2 separate regions of the Homo sapiens genome follow, and region 2 is linked to region 1. The links come from fine-mapping of genetic effects on gene expression. A gene starts in region 1. The other region holds a variant in brackets. All regions are shown on one strand. Distances are between the middles of the regions. Region 1 holds the start of GAB2 (GRB2 associated binding protein 2). Region 2 overlaps USP35 (ubiquitin specific peptidase 35).

Region 1 (15,116 bases):
ATTATAAACTTTAACATGGTGACTTTTGTGATACGTGAATATCTTAATTAAAAATTAAGTTATATAAACTTATAATTAAATAAGTTATATTAAAAAGAAAGGTAGTAACTACCCCAAACTCATCACTTGGCTAATTACATTTTACTATTGTGTTCTTGGTGTTATTTATGTCTATTGTGTCTTTATGTTGGAAATACTAAATAATGGTGTATTACTGTGTATCTCTTAACTCTGTATTCAAGGACATTAACTTGATAGCTTAAAACTGGCCATGGCTGGCAGAGTATTTATGCCACAACAGTTGGCATATACTGTAAATCAAGGCACCCACCAACACCACCAGGGAGCCAATTTTAAAATATTTGCCAGCACATCATTGGCTATATTGTCGGACAATCATCTTGGGTAATTCTGGTAGAATTATATAGTTAGATGAGGTGAAATCCTGAGGCCTCTAGGTTCCCAGCAAAACAAAGACTAGCAAGCCTGCACAGTTACTATGCAATTTATCAGGTGCAGAAGGAAATGACGTTTCTGGTCATCTGTTGAATAAAGCCACTTTGAGTTCAGGGGACATGGTTTTCTCCAGCTTCACTAGTGTTGCATCTGGTACAAGGGGTTAAGTGCTAAACCCCTGTAGGATTGTCACAGTGAAGCCAGATAACAGAGTAACCGCAAAGAGATTTAATTCTGTAGTCCCACAAAGGAGGGTGTGTAAAGAGTGTACAACAGTGTCAGAGTTTGGAAACCAAGGGTTGACAAAGTTGGTTCTCTGGAATCTGGGGGTACCAGTTAAAAGGTTAAAAGGAGTCATTGTTTTCTGAAACTATCCAAGAGTTACAGCCATGTTTTTTTGTTTTTGTTTTTGTTTTTAAGATTTCGGGGGAATCTTATTTTCTCACATGTTTCTGGAATTTTTCTTTTTTTTTTAATTTAAGTTCCAGGGTACATGTGCAGGATGTGCAGGTTTGTTACATAGGTAAATGTGTGCTATGGTGGTGTGCTGCACCTATCAACCCATGACCAAGGTATTAAGCTCAGCAAGCATTAGCTATTTTTCCTAATGCTCTCCCTCCCCCAACCCCCTACCCACTCACAGGTCCCAGTGTGTGTTTCCCTCCCTGTGTCCTGTGTTCTCGTTGTTCAGCTCCCACTTATAAGTGAGAACATGCGGTGTTTGGTTTTCTGTTCCTGTGTTAGTTTGATGAGGATAACGCCTTCCAGCTCCATCCATGTCCCTGCAAAGGACATGATCTCGTTCCTTTCTATGTCGAGTTACAACCATTTTTAAAAGTGGAACTGCACAGGATTACCTCAGCCTGCTAAGTCCTTCCAGCTAGGCCGTCCCTGTGGGTTTAAACGCAATGTAAAGAAAGTGGATGTTAAGTGTTCTTACCACAAAAATGATAACTATATTAGTTAATGCATTTGTTAGTTAGCTAGATTTAACCATCCCACAGTGTATTTTATGTATTTGTATTTATATTTCAAAACATCATATTGTACATAATAAACACATCGATGTTATCTGACAATTTTTATTAAAAAAAACCACTCCAGCCACTTATAGGTACCTTCACAAATACTATTCTCTGGTTTGTATGGATCAGAGAGTTCTAGATGTTCCAGTAGTCTACAGCCCCAACCTGTCATCCTTTAAGGGTTGGTTCCTTCATTCTCACAATGAACATTTAATGAGCATCTATTCTGTGCTGGTACCATGCTGGGAAGCTCTGGGAATACAAAAATGAGGAAGGGCCAGATGTGGTAGCTCATGCCTGTAATCCCAGAACTTTGGGACACCAAGGCAGGAAGATCACTTGAGCCCAGGAGTTTGAGACCACTCTGGGCAACATAGCAAGACATTGTCTCTAAAAAAATAATAAGTGAGAAAAACACATTCATGTCTTCAAGGAACTCACAATTCCTCGACAAGGAAATATTTGCTGTACAGTGTGATAATCCAATTTATATAAGTGCAGTGTGGATACCAAGAAAAGAGTGAACAACTTTGCTGGAGAATGGGGACAGTCAGTTTTAGGGAAAGAGGTCTTGACGTATGTTCAAGATCTAATTCAAGGTAGGAGTTCTCTCTGCAGAGCAAATAAAAGGAGCCAGCATTGCAGAGTGTGGTTTGGAAGACTACAGCACTTTCTCAAGGATCTTGACAGTCTTTGTTCTTGGTGGATTATGACAACTGATTTACCAGTGTCAGCAGCAAAGTCGTGGGAGCCTAACTGCCACAGAGCCATTAGCACTGATTCTGGTTATTTTCAAAGGAGAAATTGGGAAAATGGGATTGCTCAAGCTTTTCTCTAAGAAAGTTTTTTTTTGTTTGTTTGTTTGTTTTTTGAGACAGAGTCTCACTCTTGTCGCCCAGGCTAGAGTGCAATGGTGCGATCTCAGCTCATTGCAACCTCCACCTCCCAGGTTCCAGCAATTCTCCTGCCTCAGCCTCCCAAGTAGCTGGGATTACAGGTGCCCGCCACCACACCCAGCTAATTTTTGTATTTTTAGTAGAGTTGGGGTTTCACCATGTTGGCCAGGCTGGTCTCAAACTCCTGACCTCAAGTGATTCACCCGCCTCAGTGTCCCAAAGTGTTGGCATTGCAGGCATGAGGCACCGCACCCGGCCAAAAGTTTATTTTCAAAATGTCTCCCACTGGGTATAGTGTCAAGTAACTCTCAGACTATTAGCCACAGACAGGGAGGAAACCCAATTAGGTCTTTAACCCCACCCCATTCCCACTTCCAGATCTCATCCTCAACCAGATGCCCAGAGTTGACTTGAGTAAGTTAAGGTAATTTGATATAGGGAACCATGTGGGCCTCAAGTAACTAGGGGTTAAAGAAGCATACACCTTTATATGCCTGAGAGATGAGTGTCCTGAAAGACACCAGCTGAGGTGGTTCAGCTGGTCACACTGACCTTCGTAAGCAGCACTCAGTTCTGAAATTAACCTGTCAACTAAATTGAAGGGGAGAAAAAGCAGAAGGGCTAGCACACAAACATCCATCCCCACCCCCAGTCCAATCACTGACGTCAGGCCTGGCGTGGGTGGTATTAATCACACAAGCTTGGTGTGCAGTTGAGGACAGCTCTCCTTCCAGCCCTTCAACCCGTTTCTGAAAGCATTCCACCAGCCATGCACCTGCCGCTGGCCACAAACCCTCAACTCCCAGACAGGCACGGATGCAGCGACGGATGTCCCTGACGACACTCAAAGCCACAGTGCACCCTTTAGAACCCCAGGCTTTGTGGGGAGTGGGAGTAGCTATGAGCGGGGGCCAAAGTGGTACCCATGCTCTCCCAGTGTGCATTTCTCTAATCTCTGCAGTGCTCCCTCCTCATAAGATAGTCATTTCCTGAGAATTTAATAAGAATATAAGATTAATGACCCAAAGCACTCTTGGAGCCGGCGATTAATTCCCCCAGGAAATACCAGTGGTCTTTAAACAAAATTGCCTAAATTATGGGCTAGTGATGCATGTCCGCTCAGGGCTTGGGGGTGGGGGGATTGTCACCCCAACTGGTTCCGATAGATGGCGCCTATCTTCATGTAAATCATTCAAATGATTTGTTTTCCATTTTTTTCCCAGCAAAAACCGGGGACCATTTAAACAGACACACACAGCAGGGAGTGGAGAGGACTTAGTAAAAGCCCAGACAGGAACTTTCCGTCCAAGGGTTGTTTCCAGGCCTGGCACGCCTCTCAGGCTCAAAAGACTGAGCCACTCCAGGGTGCAGCCAGGGACTTGAGCAGCAGTCTTGCTTCCTATGCACAGCCCGAGATGGGCACTAGCAGCAAGAGGGACGCAGGGTGGGAGTCCAGCTGAAGAGCACAGTAAAAAAGCCCCTTTCGGCCGGGCTCACGCCTGTAATCCCAGCACTTTGGGAAGCCGAGGCAGGCGGATTACGAGGTCAGGAGATCGAGACCATCCTGGCTAACATGGTGAAACCCCGTCTCTACTAAAAAAAAATACAAAACATTAGCTGGGCGTGGTGACGGGCGCCTGTAGTACCAGCTACTAGGGAGGCTGAGGCAGGAGAATGGCGTGAACCTGGGAGGCGGAGCTGGCAGTGAGCGGAGATCACGCCACTGCACTCTAGCCTGGGCAACAGAGCGAGACTCCGTCTAAAAAAAAAAAAAAAAGCTCCTTTCTTTAACCTTTGGGGAAAGATGGGGGTGTTCAGAGAACCCTTCCCAAAGTCGATACCTGGTGACTGTTGTATTCATATTTCAAGGTCCCTCCTGCCATTGGCCAAACAAGAAACATCAAACTTTTCCATTTCCACATGAAATTGTAAATAACACCATCTTTTCCTAAGCAAACAAAATAAGACTTTAAGGAATTTCTGGCAGAATATGACCTAACCCCCACTAACTCTTGCTAAACAGTCTTCCAGTCTGTGTATTGAATCATGTAACTATCAAAGGATACGTAAGACTACTCTTCTGGGGGAAGATAGGGCATACGTATGCCTGACTTGCATCACAAACCTCAGCTGCAGCCAAACCATGCAGATTTCTCCGACTCTGCAATCTCTGGGACTTGGCACCATGACTCAGATGTGAATGAAGTCAGGATAGTTTTATTTTGGTTGGAAGTCACCGCCTCCTGATTGATTTGGCAGACGTTAAGTGTTGTTTGTCTTACAGGGATTTAAGGTACTTAAAGCCAGAAGTTAAAATGGCCATCATTCTGGTGGTGGCCCTTCATACGTGACTTAAGGATCCCTAAATTGTAAGGTTAAGGGAGCTGTGGTCCCAGCCTACCAGTTCTGGCTTTACTTCCCATCCAGCAGCACACTGGATATTGAAGAAAGTCAGTGAAATGTTAGATCCAGGGGACTGACCGCTAAAACTCCCAGGGTATCTAGAAGAGCTAAGTACGTGGTAGGGGATTCGCTTTTCCAAATTGAGGAGGGTGAACTTCCCCCAACCCAATCAAGATCTTTTGGACCAAATGATGTCCAACTGCTTGAAACAACTCAGCTGCACAGAGACAGAAATAAACAAAACAGCTTTAGTCTGAGGTTGTGTGGGGCACTGCAAGATGCTGCTTCTCCAATTCATCTGTCCACACAGCACGGTTCCCCATTGAATAAACAGGTTACTATCCACTTATCAGAGAAGTTAGGGAGGACCTGCCTTTTAATGCTGCTTAGAGAGACACTTTGTGATGAGAAAAGAGCTCGTACAAAAGATTTTTTTCTCCCCCCTCCCGCTGAAGTGCTGGGGTTGTGTGCTTCCACGTACATCTGGGATACCATTATATTTACAAACAGAGGTCTCATAGCCTGTGTCAATGAGCGGGAACGTTGGGGAATTTGGACCCCAATTTCTTGTTCTTCTGCACTTGACCTTGCCTTCCAATTCGTTATGAAATACATTGACTAGTTTTGCTTCTTCCATTCTACAAATCATGCGAATTTTCTATACTAAACTGTGTTTTCCCAGAGGCAGTGTAGGAGGGAGTCAGCTGGACTTGGTTTCCAGGCAATGAGAGGCTCCCAGGTCGATCCCATTAAGGCAATGCCCTCATTTTGAATAGCAGATGACCGGGACCCCTCCTCCCCCACACACCTGAATTGGAAAATTGGCTCGGCTTTGTACAAGCCCTTGCCCTTAGGCTGTCCATAAAATAGGAACAATACTGAAGACAATCCTGTAAGCTACAAAAGCAAAGGCTCCGGCGCGTAGTAGGTCCGTCTCCTCCTCCCGCCGAGGGACGCCAGAGTTAAGGAGCTTCTTGCTGGGAAGGGGTCCCTCCTTTCAGCCGGAACCTGACCCGCAGAATGTATCGGAAATGTGAGCAGCCCTAGTATCCCTTCCCCGTCGACGCTCGGTGAAAAATCGATCGACGACCGAGGGCGCGCAGTCCCTTCCCCTCACACCCGCCAGCGCCAGGGGCGCGGTCGCCTCCCTGGCCTCCGCGCCCGCGGCTTGGGGCCTCAGGAGAAAGCGAGACTCCGGGGCGCGCCGGCGGCGGTGGCTTTCTGTATCCTCGCGGGTCCCTAGCCCCGCGTCCGCGTGCGCGGCGGCCTCGGGGGCGCGGCGGGAGCGGGCGTGGCGAGCGAGCCGGCCTTCCTGCTGCAGCTGCTCCCCCGGCGGCCGGGCGGAGAGTGCGGATTGCGCGCGCTCGGGGCGGGGGAGCGGGCGCGCGCGAGGCTGCCGGGCTCGCGCCGCGCCGCGCCGCCTAGTCCCCGCCGGGCCGCCCGCCCCGCCCCTGGCCTCCCGCGAGCTGCGCACCGCCGGCCGCTGCCCCAGCTGCCCGAGCCCGCGCCCTCGTCCGCGCGACCCGGCGGGGGGCTCCAGGCCGGCAGCATGAGCGGCGGCGGCGACGTGGTGTGCACCGGCTGGCTGAGGAAATCGCCTCCCGAGAAGAAGTTGAGGCGCTATGTGAGTGCGGGCGCGGCCGCCCAGGGGCGGGCGGGGGGCGCTCCGGGGCCTGCGGAGGGGCGGGGGACTCCCGGAGGGGCGGCAGGCTGGGGAGCTCGGGCCCGGAGCCGCGGGGGGCCGGGGGCGAGGAGCGGCCGGGGGCGTGTGGGGCACCTGCACACCTGTCACAGGTGGGCCGCCGAGGGGCGGGGCGGGCGGCAGGTTGAGGCTGCGGCTCCTGCTCCGCCAGGCGGGTGCGGCTGCGGCGCCTCCCAAGCCGGTCTGCTCGTGAACTAAATACAGTGTCGAAGTTTTGTATTGATGGCTTCTGGAGACCGAGAGAGTTGACTCTCGGGGCTGGGGCTCCGCGGCAGCCCCGAGCAGCTTCAGCCCGCAGGGTCGGGGAGAGGGCGGGAAAGGGGGGCGTAGGCTGTGGGGCCGCGCGGACGGCCCCACAAAGGGCGAGCGCCTCACGCCCTCTCCTTCCCTTTCTCCGCCTGCCCCTCCCGGCCGCCGGCCTCCCTCCGTCCGCGGCTGCATCACCGGCAGCGTCAGCGGCATGTGCAGCCCTTGTATTAAGTGACTCATTTGTTTGTCCCCCTTCTTTCCCTTTATTCCGTTCGTCTCTCACAGGCGCCTCCCCCCGACCCCGGTGTGACACTGCAGTTTGGTCCCCGTGGCTGGCCCGGGTTTGGGACCGGGCAGCTCCCGGGTGTCTGGGGTCGGGAGAGATCGAGGCTCTCCGCGGCCAGGTGTTGCCAACCGACAGTGTTTACTGAGATCGCTGGAACAGCCTTTTCCCTCTAGGTGGGGAACTGGCAGCCTGGGGGAGGTGGAACAGCGTGGCGCTGAGCCGTGGAGTTCTGGCTTTTTTTTTTTTTTTTTTTAACCCCTCTCCCCAGAGGATGCCTTGCCTGGTGAGGTCAAAGTACAAGATGGTGCCAGTTACTGAGATTTGGCCGAAATGGTCTTGGGGTAGTCGCGGGAGTTTGGAAGTGGGGGTAAGGTTGCTGGAAGGTTTCAAGGTCTCTCATCTGCTCCCTCTCCGTTTCCCATGAAATGCCCTTGTTTAACGGGCTGTGGTGCCGAACTCCGGGATCACTCCCACAGCCTGGAAGGGAGCCGTTGCCTCCAGCTGCAGTGCATCAAGGGAGCTCGGAATAGACCCTGCCCTCTGTCAGCTGCACCAGTGGCTGTCCATGGGGGGAGAGGCAGAAGCCTACCAGAATTTCCTGTCTTGGCTCCCCAGATCAGAATCAAGGGACTTCTGGCCTCTGGACTGAGGAAGTGACATTCTGTTTTTCAAAGGAAGTGTTGTTGTTGCGGAGTACAAGTGTGTGTCAATGAAATCAGGCTCTTAGGTAGATGTTTGCTGGGGGAAAAAAATCTAAGGATTTAGCACATGAGTTTTGAAAGTGGACGTGGATTTATAGGAGGAATGAAGCAGTGAATTGTTCATCTCAGTTCGGAAGCTCATTTTTAGGAGTGTCTATGTAGCCAAAGTATAATTATTAAGAAATAAACTTTTTTCCTCTTCAGGGTTGTATCAGTTCGTTAGGAAGGTTGAATATTTTAATTAGGATTAAGGAGCAGTGATTTACTATTAACAATTTTATAAATAATTTAAAAACTTTGTCCCGAAGAGCTTCCAAAAATTATCTATACAAATAGATTTCCATACAAGCTAGTGGAATACAGTGTCCACAGTAAAAAAAAAAAAAAAAAAAGTGACCCTTAATTTTCAAGTTTGAACACTATACACTAAAGAACCTTGAAAGTTGTTTTTGAAACAATTTGCAAACAGTATGACACTGTATCTACATTTGACTTATCGCTCCTTGAACTCTCACCCAGACTCTATGACCCATTTCTTGGGTGTTTTTGTTCCCAAACAACTTTAGTTCAAAATAACCAGGTTTGGAGGCATTTGGGTCAAGCACCTTTTTCACTGATTTGAACGAATCTAGTCGTATGATGGCCTTAGCCTCTCTTTCCCATCTTCCATGTACCTTCAGCCCATCAGGTGTCAGACCTTAACAGCTTTAAGTAACAGCTTTTCTTAGGTTAGGATGTGATGTGTTCACTTACATGACTGGAAGCCTCTGCCCCTTCGGAAGTTCAGTTTCCCCCTAACTGAAACTGGTGATATGTGTAACCTTAAGCCTCTGGGGAACAGTATGCCTTTACATCTACTTTTCTTTTGGGGTATTCAGAATTTTTGCATCCTGTTGTAAGTTAAAACTCTGCTAGTTTGCTTATTTCAGTAGAGGCCCGAGTTCATTAGAACCAAGCTTGGAAAGTATTTCCCAGCCCCATGGCTGTATATTTACCCCAAAGTAGCTGCTGCTTCTGGTATACATCATAGGCGTGTTATATTGTAGATTGAGAAATCCTCATTATAAGAATACATCGAGCATATGTGATAAGGGGAAAAAGTAGTTGAACTAGGTTATAACTATTTAAAACGATTTTTTAAAAAACTGACTTAATTTGAAGTCTGGGCGCAGTGGCTTATGCCTGTAATCCCAGCACTTTGGGAGGCTGAGGCGGGTGGATCACTGGAGGTCAGAAGTTCGAGACCAGCCTGGCCAATGTGGTGAAACCCCGTCTCTACCATAAATATAAAAATTAGCTGGGCGTCATGGAGGGCATCTGTAGTCCCAGCTACTCAGGAGGCTGAGACATGAGAATCGCGTGAGCCCGGGAGGCTGAGGTTGCAGTGAGCCGAGATCGTACCACTGCACTCCAGCCTGGGTGACAAAACGAGACTCCATTTCAAAGAAAAACAAAAAAACTTACTTAATTCGGAAAGACGGGAAGGTGTAGAGGGGAAAAACATCTTAGAAGAAGCAAAGGCAAATGTTTGAGCAATTAGTTTTCAGGGATTTTTTTCATCAGCCTTTTCTAGTTAATTAAGTATAAGTATAAGAGACCTATCTGCTATTTACTGAGTGCCCTGGAGAAATTGCAAAAAGTGTCTCTGGAAAATGCTGACTATTGCCTCTGGGGCATCCTGATATGGCTGCAGTGGGAGGCCGGCAGAAGTAACAACCCTCCCATCGTGCCTCAGTGTATTTGTGTGTGTATGCGCGTGCATGCAAATGCATACACACGTACATGTATATAATTATTAAACAGAATTTTCTTGAGGAAAAACATTTTATTAATATGACCTACACTGCATTGTAGTTTTCTATCAATTTCACTGGATTAAAAGATTGAGGGAATAAGATTGGCAGACTACCCCCTAGTGGCTAACTTGAAGAAAGTTGTGCACAAATTGTAAAGAACTACTGCATTAAGGTAACAGTAATTGTTTATTTCCATTATATTTATTAAATATACTTATTAAATCTATGTCCCAGGCACTGGATCAGGTGCTTGGAATAAAAATCCAGTAAACAGAAAAAAAAATTAATCCAGTCTTTCAGTCTTAGCAATGGCTTTGCCTTCTCCTTCAAAGGAAAATTGAAATGATGAGGGAGTAGTTGTCTGTACGTACGATGAATGGCCACATTTTCAAATTTACTTGTATCTGCATAGTTCCTTTCTTTCTTCCTTTTTTTTTTTTTTTTTTTTGAGACAGAGTTTCACTTTTGTTGCCTAGGCTGGAGTGCAATGCACGATCTGGGCTCACTGCAACCTTTGCCTCCTGGGTTCAAGCGATTCTCCTGCCTCAGCCTCCCAAGTAGCTGGGATTACAGGCATGCATCACCACACCTGGCTAATTTTGTATTTTTAGTAGAGATGAGGCTTGACCACGTTGGTGAGGCTGGTCTTGAACTCCTGACCTCAGGTGATCCACCCGCCTCGGCCTCCCACAGTGCTGGGATTACAGACAGACATGAGCCACCGCGCCCAGCCTGCATGGTTCCTTTCTTGTTTCCTTTTCTTAGAGTAGATGAAGTGCCACTTCTATCTGAGCTAATCCTGCTACTTATACTTTGAATCATATCTTCTCCTCCCTACTCAAATAATTCTTATCCTGTAACACATCTTCAACTTCTTTCCCTCTCTGTACTACCTACTTTTTTTCAGGGATAAACTTGGTGGTGGTTTATGCAGTCTTCCTTTCTCCCACCTTCTTCTCAGTCGGCTCCAGTGGAAACCTACTTTGTTATTCACCAAAGCTATTCTGACAAAGGCACCAGCGATACCCAGGTCACTAAACTCAGAGGATGATTTTTTACTCCTCATTTTAATTAATCTCTTCACTGCTTGGTCATAGTTGACCACTCTTTTTTAAAACACCTTCCTCTTATCTTGGCTGACACTATAAATGCCTGTTATTTCTCCTTTTCTGGCTACTCTATATTTCCTTTGCTAGACTGACCCTTTTATCCAGTCCTTAAAGGTTGAAGCTCCTTTATAGTCATAGTGGCTGTGTGGTTTCTCCCCTTTGGCAACCTTGTCCATTCTACTGGCTTCAGTTATCATTTGCATGGTGGTCATCAAGTTAAATTTCCATCTCAGAGTTGTGTTCTGAACTTCAGACTTACATATCCAACTGTTAACTGGGCATCTCTATTTGAATGTTTCCCAGTCAACACAAACTCACCACTTCCAAAACTAAACTCTTCTTTGTTCATCTCTTCACTCCACATCTGCTCAGTAAACAGTGCCACTAAGCACCTACTTGCTCAGATGAGAAACTTGGGCATCATCTTTGACTCCCCGTCACCCACTATCCCACATCTAATCTGTCACCAAAACCCATTAGTGGTATCATCTAAATATCTTGTTATACGCTTCTTCATCCCCACTGCCATGACTTTTAGGATTATTTTAGTAGCCATCTGTTGAGCACTTACTTTGTACCAGGCACTATGCTTAGACCATTGATCTTTTAATGTAGTAATTTAGCCCTATAATAAGGGAAGCAACTTACCCAAAGTCATCTAGCTTTGTCCTAAAGCCTGGGCTTTTTAAAAAAATTAAACATTTCATTTTGAGGTAATTCTACATGCACATCTAGTTGTAAGAAATAGTAAACAAAGATTTATGTAGCCATTATCCAGTTTTCCTTAATGGTAACATCTTGCAAAATTATAGTACAGTATCACAACAGTATATTGACAATGATACAGTCAAGATACAGAGCATTTCCATCATGATAGGATTTTTTATGTTGCCCTTTTATAATCGTATTCACTACCATCCCACCCCTACCACATCCTTAATCTGTGACAACTACTAATCTGTTCTCTGATATTTCATGTGTGTTATTTAAATGGATTCATGCAGTACTTAAGATTTTGAACTTTTTTTTATTCAGCATAATTCTCTGGAGATTCATCCTCATTTCATGCATCAATAGTTATTGTTTTTTATTGCTAAGTAGTATTTCATGGTATGGATGTACCACACAGTCTGTTTATTTAACCATTCACCCGTTAGTTCTCATTTACATTTCCCTTATGGCTAATGATGTTGAACATCTTTTCATATGATTATTTGCCATCTGTATATCCTCTTTGGTCAAATGTCTTCAAGAATTTGAGTATTTTATATATAGGTTTTTTTTTTTTGAGATGGAGTTTTGCTCTTGTTACCCAGGCTGGAGTGCAATGGCATGATCTCGGCTCCCCAGGTTCAAGTGATTCTCTTTGTTGTTGTTGTTGTTGTTGTTGTTGTTTTTAGACAGATTCTCACTCTGTCACCCAGGCTGGAGTGCGGTGGCACAGTCTTGGCTCACTGCAACCTCTGCCTCCCAGGTTCAAGCGATTCTCCTGCCTCAGCCTCCTGAGTAGCTGGGACTACAGGTGTGCGCCACCATGCCCAGCTCATTTTTGTATTTTTAGTAGAGACAGGGTTTCACCATGTTGGCCAGGATGGTCTCAATCTCTTGACCTCGTGATCCGCCCACCTTGGCCTCCCAAAGTGCTGGGATTACAGGCGTGAGCCACTGCGCCGGCTTTCCTGGTTTTTTTTTTTCTACACATTTTACAGGTTTATGTTTTTCCTTTAAGTCCGTGATCCACTGTGAGTTAATTTTCATGTAAGATGTGAGACTTAGATTGAGGTTCTTTTGTTGTTGTCATTGTTGTTGACAAAGCCATCCTACTTCCATTGAATTGCTTTTCCGTCTTTGTCAAAAATCAGTTGGACGTATTTGTGTGGGTCTGTTTCTGTTGTCTCTGTTTTGGTCCATTTTTCCATGTGTCTGTCCCTCTGCAAATACCATAGAATCTTGCCAACTCTAGCTATATTGTAAGTCTTGAAATCTGGTAGCCTGATTCCTCTACTTTATTCTTATTTTTCAAAGTGTTTTAGCTATTCTATTATCTTTACCTTTCAATACAAATTTTAGAATAATCTTGTTTATGCAAAAAAAAGAAAGTCTTGCTGAGATTTTAATAGGAAGTGCATTAATCCTGTGTACCAATTTGGGAAGAAATTACAGCTTTACTATATTAAATCTTCCAGTCCATGAATTTATTTTACATTTATTTATATATGTCTTTCTTCCTTCGTTTATTTTCTTCTCCTTCCACCATCCCCCCCCCCAACCACCCCCACCAGAATCTTGCTGTGTCACACAGGCTGGCGACAGTGGCACAATCATGGCTCACTGCAGCCTCAAATTCCTGGGCTCAGGTGATCCTACTGTCTCAGCCTCCCAAGTAATTGGGACGACAGCTGCGTACTGCTGTGCCTGGCTAATTTTTTTTTTTATTATTTGTAGAGACAGGGTCTCCCTGCGTTGCCCAGGCTGGTCTCACACTCCGGAGCTTAAGCAGTCCTCCCACCTTGGCTTCCCAGAGTGCTGCGATTATAGGTGTGAACCACCATGTCTAGCCTTCTGGAAGAGATGGTGTAGAACTGGTATAATTCTTTAAACCTTTGGTAGAATTCTCCAGATTAAACCATCTGGATCTGGAAATGTCTTTGTTAGGAATTTTTTACATTTTTAATCCAATTTCTTTAATAGATACGGGGTTCTTCAAATTATCTACTTCATATTGGCTGAATTATAGAAGTTTACATTTTTCAACAAATTGGTCCATTTTGTCTAAGTTGTTACATACATGTGAGTGGAGTTACAGTATCCTGTATTATGCTTTCAGTGTCTGCAGGGTCTGTAGTGGGTCCACTGCTTTATTTTTTTAACCCTTATTCTTGCATACTGACATTGCTTCATTATTATTTTTTGTTTGTTTTTTGAGACAGCATGTCACTCTGTCACCTGGGGTGGAGTGCAATGGCACGATCTCAGCTCACTACAACCTCCACCTCCCAGGTTCCAGCAGTTCTCCTGCCTCAGCCTCCCGAGCAGCTGGGATTGCAGGCATGTGCCACAATGCCCAGCTGATTTTTGTATTTTTAGTAGAGACAGGGTTTCACCATATTGGCCAGGCTGGTCTCAAACTCCTGACCTTAAGTGATCTGCCTGCTTTGGCCTCCCAAAGTGCTGCAATTACAGGCATGAGCCGCTGCACCTGGCCTCTGATTTTTTTATATAGTAGTTTATTCATTTGAGACTTTTCCTCTTATTTAATGTATTCATTTACTGCTATGAATTTCCCTCTCAGCACTGCTTTAGCTGTGTCCCACTAATTTTGATAAATTGCATTTTCAATTTTTATTTGCTCAGTATATATATATTTTTTTTACTTTCCTTGAGACTTTCCTCTTTGACCATGGATTATTTACAAGTACATTGTTTAGTTTCCAAATGTTTGGAGATTTTCCCATTATTTTTCTGTTTCTGTCTTTTAGTTGGAATTCATTGTGGGAGTAGAGTAAGTTCTATTTGATTTCAATTATTTTTAACTTGTCAAGGTTTATTTTATTGCTGAAAATGTGGTCTATCTTGCTTTAGGTTCCATGGGTACTTTGAAAAGAATGTTTATTCTGCTATTATTGGGTAAAGTATTCCATAAATGTCAATTATATCTTTTTGATTGATAGTGATATATATAATTCTTTTATATCCTTGCTGATTTTTCTATCTAGTTCTTCTGTCGATTGTTGAGAGACAGGGGTTGAAGTTTCCAACTATAATTGTGAATATTTCTGTTTCTCATTTCACTTATATCTGTTTTTGTTTCACATATTTTATTTTTTTTATTATTTTTTTGGAGATGGAGTTCCGCTGTTGTTGCCCAGGCTGGAGGTGCAATAGCATGATCTCAGCTCTCCGCAACCTCCACCTCCTGGGTGCAAGCAATTCTCCTGCCTCAGCCTCCCAAGTAGTTGGGATTACAGGCATGCGCCACCACACCCGGCTAATTTTGTATTTTTAATAGAGACAGGGTTTCTCCATGTTGGCCAGACTGGTCTCGAACTCCTGACCTCAGGTCATCCGCCTGCCTCGGCCTCCCAAAGTGCTGGGATTACAGACATGAGCCACCGCACCCAGCCCTGTTGTTCAATATATACACATTTAGAATTGCAACATCTTCTTGGTGGCATGACCCTTTTATCTTTATATAATACCTGCTGAGTCTCTGGTAATTTCTTTTGCTCTGAGGTCTACTTGTTATCTGATATATTATACAAGTATCTGAGGGCTACTTGATATATTATAGCCTATATCTGATGATATAGTTATTCTTGCTTTCCTTTTATTGATATTCACATGATACATCTTTTCCATCAATTTACTTTCAACCTACCCATATCATTGTATTTGAAGTGATATCTTATAGGTGGCATATTGTTGGGGTGTATTAATCCGTTCTCGCACTGCTGTAAAGAACTACCTGAGACTGGGTAATTTATCAAGAAAAG
Region 2 (14,015 bases), 200 kb after region 1:
GACAATTTGAGCAGTCATACTCCGTTTTGGAACTGAGATGATAAAGACATACATAAAACATGTTCCTGCCCTTCAGAGCTTACATCTCATTGGGAAAATAAAACCAACACATATAAATCAGGACAAGTATTGTTACTGTGGTGTTCAGAGAAGTGATGGCTGGGGTGAGCAGGACAGGTGAGTGGTGTAGGAGTCAAAGGAGAGGTGCATAGATGAGGGTAGAGTAGTCAAGGACAGCTTCTCTGCAGATGCTAACACTGGAGCTACATCTAGAAGCCCAGGAGGAATTTTTGAACTGAGGAGTGATGTGTTCGAAGAAATTCCTTATCATTTGGGGTTGAGAGTAGTATCTTCTGGAGTATCAGTAAGACCTTGAACCACACTGGTGAGGGTATGGGTAAGTGTCAACACATGAATCAACCATGAGTACTTATGAATCCTCCTTCCTCTGTCAGCTTCTTCCTGTGAGACCTACGAGTACCCACAGCGTGGTGGAGAGAGTGCAGGCCGGTCTGCTGAATCCATGAGTGATGGAGTTGGCTCTTTCCTGGTGAGTGTGGGTTAACCCAAGGGTCCTCAGGCCGGCCTGGTTAGGTAAAAGGTCACACCTTATGGAATTAAAAGCACAACCCCAAAAGATTGATGGCGTCTCCATCTTAGGACCCTGCCCAAGTTCTTGTCTCAGTTCAGAACCCTGCGTTGAGTCTTTGGACAAGTAAGATATAAGTATTCTAGTCTGGAAGAAATGTATGTGCTAAGGTAGACTGGATTACAAGGTTCACCAACCTTGTAGGTAAGCAGAGGATCTAGAATGCAATAGACCCAGGCTGCACGGTGGGGGAACCTCTAAGACAGCAACCTTACCCACGTGGCCTCACATGCAGGAGGGAGGCTGCAGTGTGAGACTCCAGGCAAGGGTGGTACTCACAGTCAGGCTAAGTGGCAGAATTATGGCTTGAGTGCAGGATCCCAGGCTGCCCTCTGGAAGATGCTAACCGCAGTTCTCCAAGGTGTCAGGCAAGAAGACCAGGGCCTGGCTTCAGGCCCACTGAAAAGACAGTGAAATCAGGTAACCAAGGCAGAAGCAGCTTAGTTGTATGTCACGGCAGATAGAGCAAGAGTTAGAGGAAGGCTGGGATTGCTGTATCACACAACTCTGTAGAAGCTCTGACTGCAGCTTGGTGGTCCCCTAGGTGCCTGGAGTGAGCCCCAGGTACTTAGAAACCTGGACTGGGGAAACACAACTGGCCCCAGACCTCACCTTCCAGAGCCAGGACTCCTAATATGCTCCTTGTTCTGATCCAGGGCCTGAGATGCTGACCTGCCAGTGGTGAGTCTGGACTTGAGGTGGAGGGCAGGTCCTGAACCAAACCTACAGTCTATGGACTATGCCACCCACAGTGTTGGTCAGGCGTCCAGAAAGCCAAGTGGACCCAGTCACCAAGAATATTTTATACTCTAGATTTATCAAAAATTATTAGTGGATGCCAAAGGATCGTGAAGGCTTGAAGGGGCCCACAGACCTCATATATTCTTGTCTCCCACTCTGCTTCCTTTTTTTTATTTTTTATTTTTTGAAACAGAGTCTCACTCTGTCACCCAGGCTGGAGTGCAGTGGCATGATCTTGGCTCACTACAACCTTGGCCTCCCAGCTTCAAGCGATTCTCGTGCCTCAGCCTCCTGAGTAGCTGGGACTACAAGCATATGCCACCACGCCCAGCTAATACTTTGGATTTTTAGTAGAGAGGAGGTTTTGCCATGTTGGCCAAGCTGGTCTCGAACCCCTCACCTCAAGTGATCCACCTGCCTCAGCCTCCCACTACTCTGCTTTCTTATTTGGTCTCCCCAAGGTCTCCCTTACAGCTTCAAAGTATAGCTAACCCAGTCATGACTTGTCTTGCCTCATTTACAAAGTCTTACCCCCTTCCTGTTTCTTCTTGCTAGTAACAGCTGTATTTCTTTCACTGTTCCTCTCCCTAGCCAGGGAAAATGATTGTGGGCCGATCGGACAGCACCAATTCTGAAGACAACTATGTGCCCATGAATCCAGGTTCTTCCACCCTGTTGGCCATGGAACGAGCAGGTGATAATTCCCAGAGCGTCTACATCCCAATGAGCCCAGGGGCCCATCACTTTGACTCACTTGGCTACCCATCAACAACCCTTCCTGTGCACCGAGGCCCCAGCAGAGGAAGTGAGATTCAGCCACCCCCTGTCAACCGCAACCTCAAACCTGATCGGAAAGGTAAGTCCATTCTTTCCCCTGTCCCATCTCTGGACAGTGGCTAGGGACTCTTTCCATTTGCTTAGGGGTCATGTGGATCCTGGACTTGAGAGGTGTGACTTGGGGCAAATCATGTAAAATCTGAGTCTCAGTTTTCTTATCTGTGAAATGCAGATGGTAATTCCTACCTCCCAGGTTTGCTGCAAAGGAGAGCATCTAGGATAGTACTTTGGTACATAGCAGGCGTTCAGTAAAGTCAGCTTTGTGCCCCCTGCATGTAGACCAGGCAAGGTCCTCGTCTGCTACAATCTCACTCTCCTGGCATTGGATCAGTGGCAAGGATTCAAAGGGAGGAGTAGGATAGCTAGGCAGAGATAGCCCCCTGTGGGTCTGGCCAACAGGGAATTCAAATCTTAGCATTTGGAACTGAAGCCCTCAAGCCCTTATGGCATCTACCTTCCTCCACTGTGGCTTGCACCGACCTGGCCAGGAGCAGCAGGGAGTAGTCACGGTGACCATCTATACTTCAAATATGGTCTCTTGGCTGGGCGCCATGGCTCACGCCTGTACGCCTGTAACCCCAACACTTTGGGAGGCTGAGGCGAGTGGATCACCTGAGGTCAGAAGTTCGAGACCAGCCTGGCCAAAATAGTGAAACCCCGTCTCTACTAAAAATATAAAAATTAGCTAAGCGTGGTGGCAGGCGCCTATAGTCCCAGCTACTAGGGAGGCTGAGGCAGGAGAATCACTTGAACTCAGGAGGCAGAGGTTGCAGTGAGCTGAGATTGCGCCGCTGCACTCCAGCCTGAGCAACAGAGTGAGACCCCGTCTTAAAAAATACATATATGTGTGTTAATATATAAATAGTATATATTTTTATAAATATTAATATATTAATATATAAATATATTTTATATATAGTCTTTTATTTTTAAATGAAGTCATAAATTGAGGGAGAAAAATCTGTTGTCAAACCCTGTGTCCCCACTTTTGATTCTGAAAATATAATTACCATAGATACAGCAGAAAGAATATATAATTTGGAATCTGAAGACATGACTTCAAGGCTCATCAATATGGGCAAAGATTATACAACCTCGCTGAGCGTCAGTTTCCCTGTGTGAAACTGGAATGACTTTGCAGGCCTTTATAAACATGCTCATGTGTTATATATAAGGTGTGTATGTGTAGCATTATCATTACTGGCTGATTACCAGACTTTCTTTTCCTGCTCCAGCAAAGCCAACACCACTTGACCTGAGGAACAACACCGTCATCGATGAACTCCCCTTCAAGTCACCTATCACCAAGTCTTGGTCTAGGGCCAAGTAAGTGCGTATGTGTGGGGGTGGGAGCTTGGAGTCGGGCCATTAGGGAAAATGAGTGATGTGGTAGCTGGCCTGTGGGCCGGGACAGCTGGATTCTGATGCTAACGCTATCATTAGCTGATCATGTCTCGATGTCTTGTGGCTTGGTTTCCTCAGCTGTAAAAGAGAATAATTATACCTGCCCTATATCAGATCTTAATCTGATGGAGTGTGCAGCTCTAATGGCTGAGGTCTGGGTGTGTGAGGGTCAGGGCCCAGCTGGAGGCTAGAAACATGGCAGCAGCCATGCAGCTTCCCCAGTGTTAACTCTTCCTTCCCACAACAGCCACACCTTCAACTCCAGCTCCTCCCAGTACTGCCGCCCCATCTCCACCCAGAGCATCACCAGCACAGACTCAGGAGACAGCGAAGAGAACTATGTCCCTATGGTGAGTCCTTCGGGCTTCGCTGGAATGACGCCTTTCAAGTCCCCTGGGACCCACCCCTCAGTTCCCCACTTCCCAGCTTAGCTAACTCACCTCAGCCCAGGGACTCCTTGTATTATTCATGATTTAGTCTCCTGCTACAAACCCTTCTTGAGCACCTGTTTATCAAGCAGTAGGAGTTGTCATCAGATGTAAGGAAGACATGAGACCTGTCCCAACGAAGTCATGGTCTTCAAGAGCAGGGGCCTGCCTCTCATGACAGTGACATGGGTGGCATGATCTGTGCCCTTGGATAGGCAGTGCTGGAGGTATCTCCTCAGTGGTGGAGGTATCTCCTCAGTGGTGAGAGGCATACGTGCACATAACTCACTTTGGTGAGGCCATAATAGAGCTATCAACACAGGCAGAGGAGGATATTTCTTCCCTGAGATTTCCATTAAGGGCGTAACTGCCCAGCACCTGGTAGTCACTGCATAGATAGTGAAAGAATGAATTAACCAACCAGTAAAGCAGCCAACAAACAGAACACAGGACTATCACCTTCTCATTAGAATAAGACTTCCAGAAAGTTCTAGAGGAGGTGGTGCTCTGCTAGAGCACGAGCCTGGATGGACAGGATCCTAGAGCGTGTCATCTGAAGAAATGCGGGCTTGTGCAGCCTGGAGATGAAGCCACCCTCTTCAGATCTTGGAGGAGCTAGGCGGGGGAGCAAGCTGCTTTGGGGTGACTACCCCACTCTAGGCCACAGGTGGGAGTTTCACAGGGGCTGATTTGGTGCGACAGAAGAAAACTTTCCAGTGCATAAAGGAAATGTGCTCCTTTCTTAAGCGCCAGCAAGCAAAGGCTGGATGTCTCAGGAGAGCCACTGTTGATGAGACTTGGCCTGATGTGCTAGAAAGGAGGCAGTGTGGTACAGGGGTTAGCACAGGTTTGGAAGTCAGAAAACAGACCTGATTCCCATCACTCAACAGCTGTGCAGCCACAGGCAAAGTCACTTCTCTGAAAGTAAAGTGAACCACAGTTTCATCTTTGCTTTAAACAGTATCAACAGTAATCATACCTACCTTACAGGATTGTCATGAGGATTAAAATGAAAACATGAAAAGTCCTTAGCATGGTGCATGTGTCAGAGTAGGGCTCAGGGAAACAGTGTTCTTACTCCCAGAGGTGTTTTTCTGGGTGGTGGGTTAGTCTGTTTTCTGCAGTCACTCACAGTTTTTTCCTCCTCGTGACAGCAAAACCCAGTGTCTGCATCTCCCGTTCCCAGTGGCACGAACAGTCCTGCCCCTAAGAAGAGCACCGGCAGCGTTGATTATCTGGCCCTGGACTTCCAGCCGAGCTCCCCAAGCCCCCACCGCAAGGTGCCTGGAGTAGAGTTGGGGGGGCAGTAAGAGCTCTCAGGGTCCCGGAGGCAGAGATCATGGAGGCCAGGGTGCCTTCAACACTGAACAGCAGCACTCAGCCTCCCTCCTGCTCCAGTACCCAGCTTTTATGATGCATCTTTAGTCATAGAGCTTTCATCTAGGTCTAAAGACTCCTATTCCTGCTCTCAGAGCACAGTACCCTCAGTCAGAGAACCTCATCAGTCAGCCCATCCCCCGTGTTGTAGAGATGGGCAAATGAGTGCACAGAGATCTGATTGTCCTAAGGTTACAAAGTGAATCAGCAACAGATCCAGGAATGAGGATACTGCCTCCTGGTCCTGGGCTCTCGAGTGGGTCCAGAGCCCTGCCGTCGATACATCAGCCTTCAGAAGGGACTTCCAGGCCTGGGAAAGCCTCCCCAGGAGGCATCCTTATAGCTAAGCAGTCTAGACAGAAGGGTGCAGAGCTGTGCCTCAGCATGGTTCCCCTTCACAGGGTGGCAGTGAGCACAGCACGTAAAGTCCTGTGGCTGATGTTTGTTTGCACCTAGCAAATTCCTTCCCCTGGATGAGCGACCTGACAGAGATGGGTGGAGGCAGAGATGAAGGCCTGGACCCATCCACCAGGGCCAAGGAAGGGCCTGGGTCCTCCCAGAAGCCGGGAAGTAAGAAGGGCTGGCAGGTGCTGCTACATCCTGCAGGAGGGATGATGAGTTTGGAGTCTGAGCTTTAAAGCCCACATTCAGAAAGAGAAGCCAGGCTCCTGAGGCTGGTCAGTGGCAGGCAGAGGCCATGCTCTTCTCCCCTTCAGACAGCTCAGGAAGATCCCGTGCCCACCTTCTTCCTCCCCACCTAACTGGTAACTCACAGCTACTCCCTCTTTCCCACTCTGTCCCCTCAGCCATCTACTTCATCCGTCACCTCTGATGAGAAGGTGGACTACGTTCAGGTGGACAAGGAGAAGACCCAGGCCCTGCAGAACACCATGCAGGAGTGGACAGACGTGCGGCAGTCCTCAGAGCCTTCCAAGGGTGCCAAGCTGTGATGAGAGGGCCACCGCAGAGCCCAGGAGGCAGCATCTCCAGAGCTGGCCCTTCCCATCTCCCCTCTCCCCTCTCCCGTTCTTCCTCCCATCCACCTCCTCTCTACTCTGCCAGTCTCAGCCTTCAAAGCACTTGACATCAGGGACCCTGAACCCTTCCCCTGGGAGGTGAGGGCCTGATCAAGGCACCTCCTCTGCCCACTCGGGGCCCAGCTGTGATTTTTATCAGTAATGGCCATGCCTCCACCCACCTTAGTTAGGAGCTACTTCCAAAAAGCATCCTTCAGCCTCTTCCTGTCCTTTAGACCTGACTCTCTACCAGATGTTTGGAGGGAAGGGCTGGGGCTCTGAGCCAGATTCCACACCTCACGTTCAGTCACAGCCCTCAGCTATCTTCCCTCCGGCCACTGGGCTACCTCTCCTTCAGTCCCAGAAGACAAGTCTCACCAACCCAGGGAGTCAAGGACCAGCAAACCAAAGTGGATAATGGACTTTTTCATTCCTGTTTTTCTTGGCAGGAGAGAAGCAAGGCCACTAAAAGAGGAGATGGTGGAGACGGAGGCTCAGCAGTGGTCTTGAGGGGTAAAGGACTTAGATGCCCAGATGAAGAGGGAAAGCTGACATCTGCAGGGAACCCACTTTGAGGCTGAGGCCATGGCAGGACAGCTGCTGTGGGGTGCAGAGGCAGAAGATGAAGGACAAAAGGAAGGGAAAACTGATGGCCAACCTAGAGCAGCAAGGAGCAGGGCTTGGAGCTCGGGTGGTGGAGATGACAAGGACACTGTGGGGTCTGGGTCCCCAGAACTCTGGAGCTACAGGCCACTCTAGGCCCAAGGGCTAGTCCTCTTCCCCAGTCCCCTCAGAGGCCCCCGCCAGCCCCACCTTGAAAGCAGCATACAGGGGAAGGCTTGGACCAAGCTGGGCGACCAAGCACATGGGGCAGGAACACATGGTAAAGGGGTGGGGAATATGGGAGGGAGTGTGGTGTGGATGGGGGTGATGCAGGGACTGAGGGGAACCCTGGGACAGGCACAGGCTGGGCAGAGGCACAGGGCAGTGCAGGGGACTCTGCAGTGGGGTCGGGAAGTGAGTTTCTTTGCAGTGAGCAGTGCAGTGGAAGTCGGGCACAGAGGTAGCAGACAGATGTGAAGCAGTGGTGAAGGCCATGTAGCAAGTGGGGAAATACATCCAAAGGGCCTGGGAGTTGGGGGGTGCCCAACGCAATCCTTGGGGGTGCAGGGTGGAGCAGAAAGTGAAGGAGGGACACGTGCAAGAGTGGTGTGCATGGTGGTGTGACATGAGGACCGTTCCTAGGATGGGACAGTGGGTCAGGCAGGACAAGGAGAAAGCAGGGCAGAATGATGCCTAGAGGACCACATCAGGCATGGCTGACAGCTTGTGCCCATGGGCTGTGGCGTATGTCAGATCGCAGGGTAGGAACGAGTCTGGCCTGGTGCCGGCCCAGTGTTTCCTCAGCTCATCCGCCCTCTGTTGCTCCCTAGCATTCCAGGAGCCATCTTGGACTCTCCTCCCCAGGTTTGAAAGGCCATCAGATTAGCAGGGACGGGGTGTAGGGCATCACCCAAGGTTCCTTCTCTTAAACTAAGGGTGGGGGATCTGAATGTTTTTATGTTGACTGTTCTTGACTAAATTTTCAAGAGTTTCAGAAGCAACAGGACAGACCAGACGTTTCATTCTACCCTGGGGCGAACAGAACTTCTTCCTCCCAAACAATGACTTCCTGCCATGTTTGATGGGGACAGCTACCACTGTCCTCTGCCCCCATTCCCCTTTCAGCTCCCATGAGCATGCATAGTTCACCAGACCAATGGCCTAGCCATTCTCTAAGTCCCATCCTGGAAGAAGTTATTTCTTCAAGAGCTGCACCTCTCCTCCTAGCATTAGTTTAGATCAACTCAAGGAGTATTTATTAATGGCTGCTGTCTCCAGTTTCTGGGGTTAAGCACTAAGGACACAAGAATCAATCAGACCTTCTCCCTGAACTTAAGATAGCCACAATCAGAAAAAGGACAAGGACATGAGACAGTGGTGATGGCCATCAGACAGAGACTTCAAATGCTGATGGAGGGCAGAGGAAGTACTTAGGGAGGTTGGTGTCAGAGGCAGGAGTGGGGGATCAGGGAAGGTGGATTCTAGGAAAAGGGAGTGCCTGAGGTAGGCCTTAGAAGGGGATGAGTCAGATTTTTACAGAGGAGGAGGGCAGGGCTTGGGTCCAGTGGAGGAAGAAGGAAGGAGAGGCTTGGAAAGCCTTGTGTCTTGGGAACAAAAGGCCTTTGAGCATATGGGTCCAGCCACTCAGAAGTGTAGGGGCCATGCCTTGGTGTTCCAATAAGTGAATGGAAGCAGTGGTGGTAGCTACACTGGGCAGAGTTGGCAGGGTGCTGGTTCACTCTGCCCAGCCCTGAATGTGTGCCTTAAAGGCCCCCTACAAGGGGCCCCATACGACAGAGCTTTTAACTGGTGCCTTCCCTGTACCCGCAGCAGCCACAAGTGGGCCCAGACTATTGCAGCCTCCCATAAACATGTGAGCATGTTCTGAGTGTGCCATGATGTGAGTGGACCTGGCTGGAATCTTCGGAGAGCGACTGAGGTGTTCAAATCGAATCTCCCAGGAGGCTTCCTTCCAGCCCCCTATTCTGGTAACTACCAGGAGGCTTCCTTCCAGCCCCCTATTCTGGTAACTACCAAAATCCCTCGGGTGCAAGTGTAGGGGTAGAGATGGAAGGATGAGAGGTGAAATTGACCTTTTGAAAGCAAAGCTCTGGCTCACAGGCCCCAAACTACCAGCCGTATCTAGCATATCCCCACCCTCCACCCACTACCTCCTCCAACAAAGGAGTCAACTCAGTTGAAAAAACTGGTCCTTTGGCCTATCCATGGGTCAAAGTCCACCTCTCCTGGGGGCCTGGAGAGGACTGAGCCTACGGAAAGGGGATACCTTCCCACTCAGCACTGCTTCACACAGGCCCCCTGCCTGGGGCTCTCCAAGGAGCCTTCTTCACCCACTTCCAGCTCCACTTCTGCAAGGTTAAGTCAAGTGAGAACGATGAGAAATAGGGAGATGGTGTCTCCTTAAGTCCTTGATCTGCCTGTCTGTGGAATGGGAGGTTGGATTAGCTGCGCTGAGGTCCCATCCACAGCTGGTGCTCAGCTGCTTGAAGGGGAGACTCCCTCCTCTGTAACTTCTTTCTGGGGGATTGGGGTGGGCAGTACCTATCCCCAGTCCCCTCCTAGCTTGACTTTAGTGGTTTCCAATGTAGAAGTTAACAAAGTATGCCCCATTCCTGTGACAAAAGCACAACCATTCTGAAGTTACTGGAGCATGGGCTCAGCTCATCCTCCCTCTGGCCCCTTCTCCCATGGGGACATCTCGGCCCAGCACCCCTATCCCATTTCCAGAGTTCTTCCTTCCCCATCTGGGCCTTCATAAAATGCAGGGGAAGCCAGACTGGTCTCAGGAGCGCTAAAGCCCTTCCGTGGGGGGTCGTCTTTCTGGGACTAGCCCTGCTGTTTAGGACCTGGGACCACAATGGGGTACCTGCCGAGGGGGTCCCCAAGAGATCCAGGCTGTCATGTGATTTATGGTGGCATGTGTTGTGTATTTGTTGGCTACTTGTGTCTTGAAATCTAGAATTATTTCACGCAGAATTGTCACTGTTTGTCAGGAAGAGAAAATGGGCTAGTGGAAGCCCAGTCTTGAGTTCTTGTCTTGTTACCATTTAAAATTGACATTTAATTTTCAAATCACTGTTGGTGCCTAATCACTTAAGTTATTAATTTATTCTGTTGTATTCTTTTTTTTAAATTGTAACATATTTATCCGGTGGGTGGGACAGGAGTGTGTTCAAGTGGGTCATGTTTTTGCTGTGGTGACACATGGTACAGGCTTGGAGCTTGCAGGTCCCTTTCTACTGTGGTGTTGGAGCAGGACAATAAAGTCCACTAGAAATGCACCCCAGAACCAGCTGCCGTGTCCATCTTGTCTTGAGGGGCTTGGTGGTGGAACCCGTTCTCACTCCAGTCTGTTCCAATTTTTGCTTTATTTGGAAATAATTGGGTATTTTTCTTGGCTGTGAATAAGAACAAATGCTCTCTACCTCAGCGTCTGTTGTAAAGTGGAAATCATACTAGCATTTACCCATCCAGCTTTCTTAGGCGTCTAGAGATGGGTTCTGGGCGTGTCTGTCTGCTGCTTTCACAGGTCACTTAGATGTGACATCTTGAGGGTCTGTGACATTGGGCCCAAACTCCACACCACCATCACAGCAGGCAGCCCCTGGGGAAGGAGGTAGGTAAAGGCTTGAGAGCTGCCTCCCAGGTGCATCCTCTCCACGGGCAGCATCACCCAGCCCTCAGTAAGGTAAGTAAGTCAGTCAGTCCACACGTTTACTTACACCCCACTTCAGTAGATTCAGTAGAGGGCTCTTGGCTCCCTGTGGCATCTCACACGTCACTGGGGGGCAGGCTGAGTCCTGGCCTCCCCAGACCCCGTGAGCAAAACCCAGTGGCCATCACAGCCCCTGAGTCCAAGGAAGAACAATCTCTTGCTTAGGCTTACTTTTATTTATTTAT[G/TTTATTTATTTAAG]AACATGGGTGTCTGTCTTGTCTTCGGTTAGAAGTTAGAAGGGGGCTACAGCAGTGTCAGGGCACTTCACCCAACCTGCAGGTGGCTGCTGTTGCAGCTACAAAGGCCAACTGCTCAGAGGAGCCCACAGGCTTCCTAAGAGCCCACACTTCACAAGGAACATGAACACCTTTGCAGTAAAATCAGGACTCTAACCACAAGGGGGATACAAGTGGTGGCTTCTCAGGCCCTGAGGCAGGCGTGGAGGGGCTGTGGGGGCAAAGGCCTCCTGCTGTGAGAAGCTAGCCCCCCGCCCCCCCCCCCAAAACCATGCAGTGGCGCTTGGTAAGGGGGCAGGTCTCGGTCTCTGTTCTTCTCAGAAAGGTACAGACAGTGCAGGTACCCCCCACCCCCATATGAGAAACAAACAAACAGGACAGCCAGAGGAGACACTGCCCCCCCCACCCCTTTGTGCAAGGCTTGGATCCTGCTGTGCTTTATACCGTACAGCAGTCGGAAGGAAAATAGTACTTGATGTCAAAACATTGGAGCTGAGGTCTAGCCTGTTTCCTGAACATCATCAGATCTTCCCGCATGGGGAGCCTGCTAGGGAAGGAGGGGGAGGCAAAGACCCGTGTGTGCCCATCTCGGCTGCTTCAAGTTAACCAGGACACTTGGGTGTAAAGTTTTAATGGGACTGATCCCCAATGAAAGGGACTTAGGTCTTACTTCCATATCTGAGAGAATCTCTGTGTACCCTTCATCAGGCTGAGGACTAAGGTGCCATGAGCTGTACCATCCTTCCTCTTGGTAGGGCCTGCCTCCACAGCTTCCCTCAGGCCCTACCTGGCTCCTGGAGGGAAGGGGTCAGGTTGGCAGCAGGTTCACATTAGAAGACCAGTCTGTGGAAGTCACCACCATTGCCACCTGCAGGATTGCAGCCCCCTGGAGAGCCTTCATCCTCATCCTTGTCTTCATCAAAGCCCCTCCCCCAGTGCGGAGATGTGGGGAGTGCAGAGATGTAGGCCGCCCTGCTCCGGGCCTCCTTCTCCTGCTCCTGGGAACACAGATGAGAGGAGACTTAGACTTAGAATTCACACCCTGAAGCCAGAGTGAGTCTACCCAGCACAACACCTTTCAATGTTTCCTCTAGGTCCCCAGGGCCTGGACACACAGAGACATTGCAGCTCAGTGGCAGGATATCCGGGGTGGACACCTTCAAAAGACTTCAAAAGACCCCCTCCTCTCAATAAAAACTCTAGTCCCTGAGCCAGCTGATACTAGGGTGTGACTGACTAGCTGACAAGGGCCTAATGTGGTACCGAGAGGTCTGAGGACTTCGAGGGTCATATCACACCACACGGGAACCTGTCCGCAGGCCTCATGATCACGAGGAATGGGCTCTGCCTATGAGAAAGCCCATCCTCCTGCTACCAGGACGTCAGCCTCATGGCGATCCTTACCCGCCACCCTGCCTCCATCTGGACAGCATGGCAGAAGCTGTCCCTGAGAGCCTGACTCAGCCTCAGGCCCCTCCCTGGGCTGCTGCTGGTAAAACAGCACATAGGCTGTGTCCTTGGGGAAGAAGGAGTTGATGTTGGTGACACCCGGTCTGGTGTCCCCACACCAGTTGCTGTATTCCCCCGCACAAAACACAAACTCCAGGCACTGGCACCCATCCCACTGGTCAAAGCCCATGCTGTTCCAGCTGCTCAGTATGCCAGTGCCACCCTTGACTCTAGGGAGTCACACAGGAGGCTCACGTGGGTAGTGGGACCCCCTCCCCCCACACCCGAAGCATCCTCCTCCCCCTCAGACTCAACTGGTCCCTGTACTCCTCCTTCAGCACACTTATTAACTGCATTAATGGGGTTTTCTAGATGATACAGAATCATGTCATTATCTCATCCCAGGAGCTTCTTAAGCTGTTAAGCAACTTCAGCAACTCTCAAGATGATACATACAAAAACCAATGTGCAAAAATTGCTAGCATTCCTATACACCAACAAGAAGCAGGGAGCCAAATCATGAACAAACTCCCATTCACAACTGCTACAAACAGAATAAAATACCTAGGAATACAGCTAACAAGGGAAGTGAAGGAGAGGACACAAATGGAAAAACATTCCATGCTCACAGATAGATAGGAAGACTCAATAGCATGAAAATGGCCATACTGCCCAATGTAATTAACAGATTCAATGCTATTCCCGTTAAACTACCATTCACATTCACAGAATTAGAAAAAACTATTTTAAAATTCATACGGAGCCAAAAAGTCCATATAGCCAAGACCATCCTAAGCAAAAAGAACAAAAGTGGAAGCCTAATGCCTACCTGACTTCAAACTATGCTGTTTTGCTTACTGTAGCCTTGTAGTATAGTACTGGTATAAAAACAGACACATAGACCAATGGAACAGAATAGAGAACTCACTCAGAAATAAGACTCCACACCTACAACCATCTTCAACAAACCTGACAAAAACAAGCAATGGGTAAAAGATTCCCTGTTTAATAAATGTTGCTGGAAGAACTGGCTAGCCATAGGCAGAATGTTGACATTCGACCCCCTCCTTATACCTTATACAAAAAATTCACTCGATGGATTAAAGACTTAAATGTAAAACCCAAAGGTATTAAACCCCTAGAAGAAAATCTAGGAAATACCATTCAGGACATAGGCATAGGCAAAGATTTAATGATGGAAACATCAAAAGCAATTGCAACAAAAGCAAACAATGACAAATGGGATCCACTTAAACTAAAGAGCTTATGCGGAGTACAAGGAACTATCATCAGAGTAGACACAACCTACAGAATGAAAAAAAATTTTTGCAAACTACCCATCTGACCTAAGTCCGATATCCAGAGTCTACAAGGAACTTAAATGTCCAAGAAAAAAACAACCCCATTAAAAAGTGGGCAAAGGACATGAACAGACACTTCTCAAAAGACATTCATTCATGTGGCCAACAAACGTACGAAAGAAAAATTCAACATCACTGACCATTAGAGAAATCAAAACCACAATGAGATACCATCTCACGCAAGCCAGAAT

What was found.
Region 2: its variant is fine-mapped to the expression of GAB2 in adrenal gland (GTEx, PIP above 0.99).

What each region holds. Positions count from the first base shown.
Region 1 is chr11:78,408,934-78,424,049 of GRCh38, reverse strand. It overlaps GAB2 (GRB2 associated binding protein 2), which reads left to right and starts at 6,230. Exons shown (of 10, transcript NM_080491.3): 1 at 6,230-6,404. The coding sequence starts at 6,330. LINC02728 (long intergenic non-protein coding RNA 2728) reads left to right here. Exons shown (of 4, transcript NR_120564.1): 4 at 1-68. RefSeq lists enhancers at 3,505-3,554, 6,490-7,244, 10,194-10,323 and silencers at 5,841-6,460, 6,571-6,670, 6,741-6,870, 7,333-7,627.
Region 2 is chr11:78,211,643-78,225,657 of GRCh38, reverse strand. It overlaps USP35 (ubiquitin specific peptidase 35), which reads right to left. Exons shown (of 11, transcript NM_020798.4): 11 at 10,426-12,012. The coding sequence ends at 11,845. It overlaps GAB2 (GRB2 associated binding protein 2), which reads left to right. Exons shown (of 10, transcript NM_080491.3): 5 at 456-550; 6 at 1,982-2,246; 7 at 3,463-3,553; 8 at 3,879-3,981; 9 at 5,214-5,339; 10 at 6,243-10,365. The coding sequence ends at 6,386. Among named protein-coding and RNA genes, the nearest start is that of USP35, 30 kb to the right of the region's middle. RefSeq lists enhancers at 1,746-1,825, 1,866-2,135 and a silencer at 2,226-2,315. The variant G/TTTATTTATTTAAG (reference allele first, on the strand shown) is at 10,977.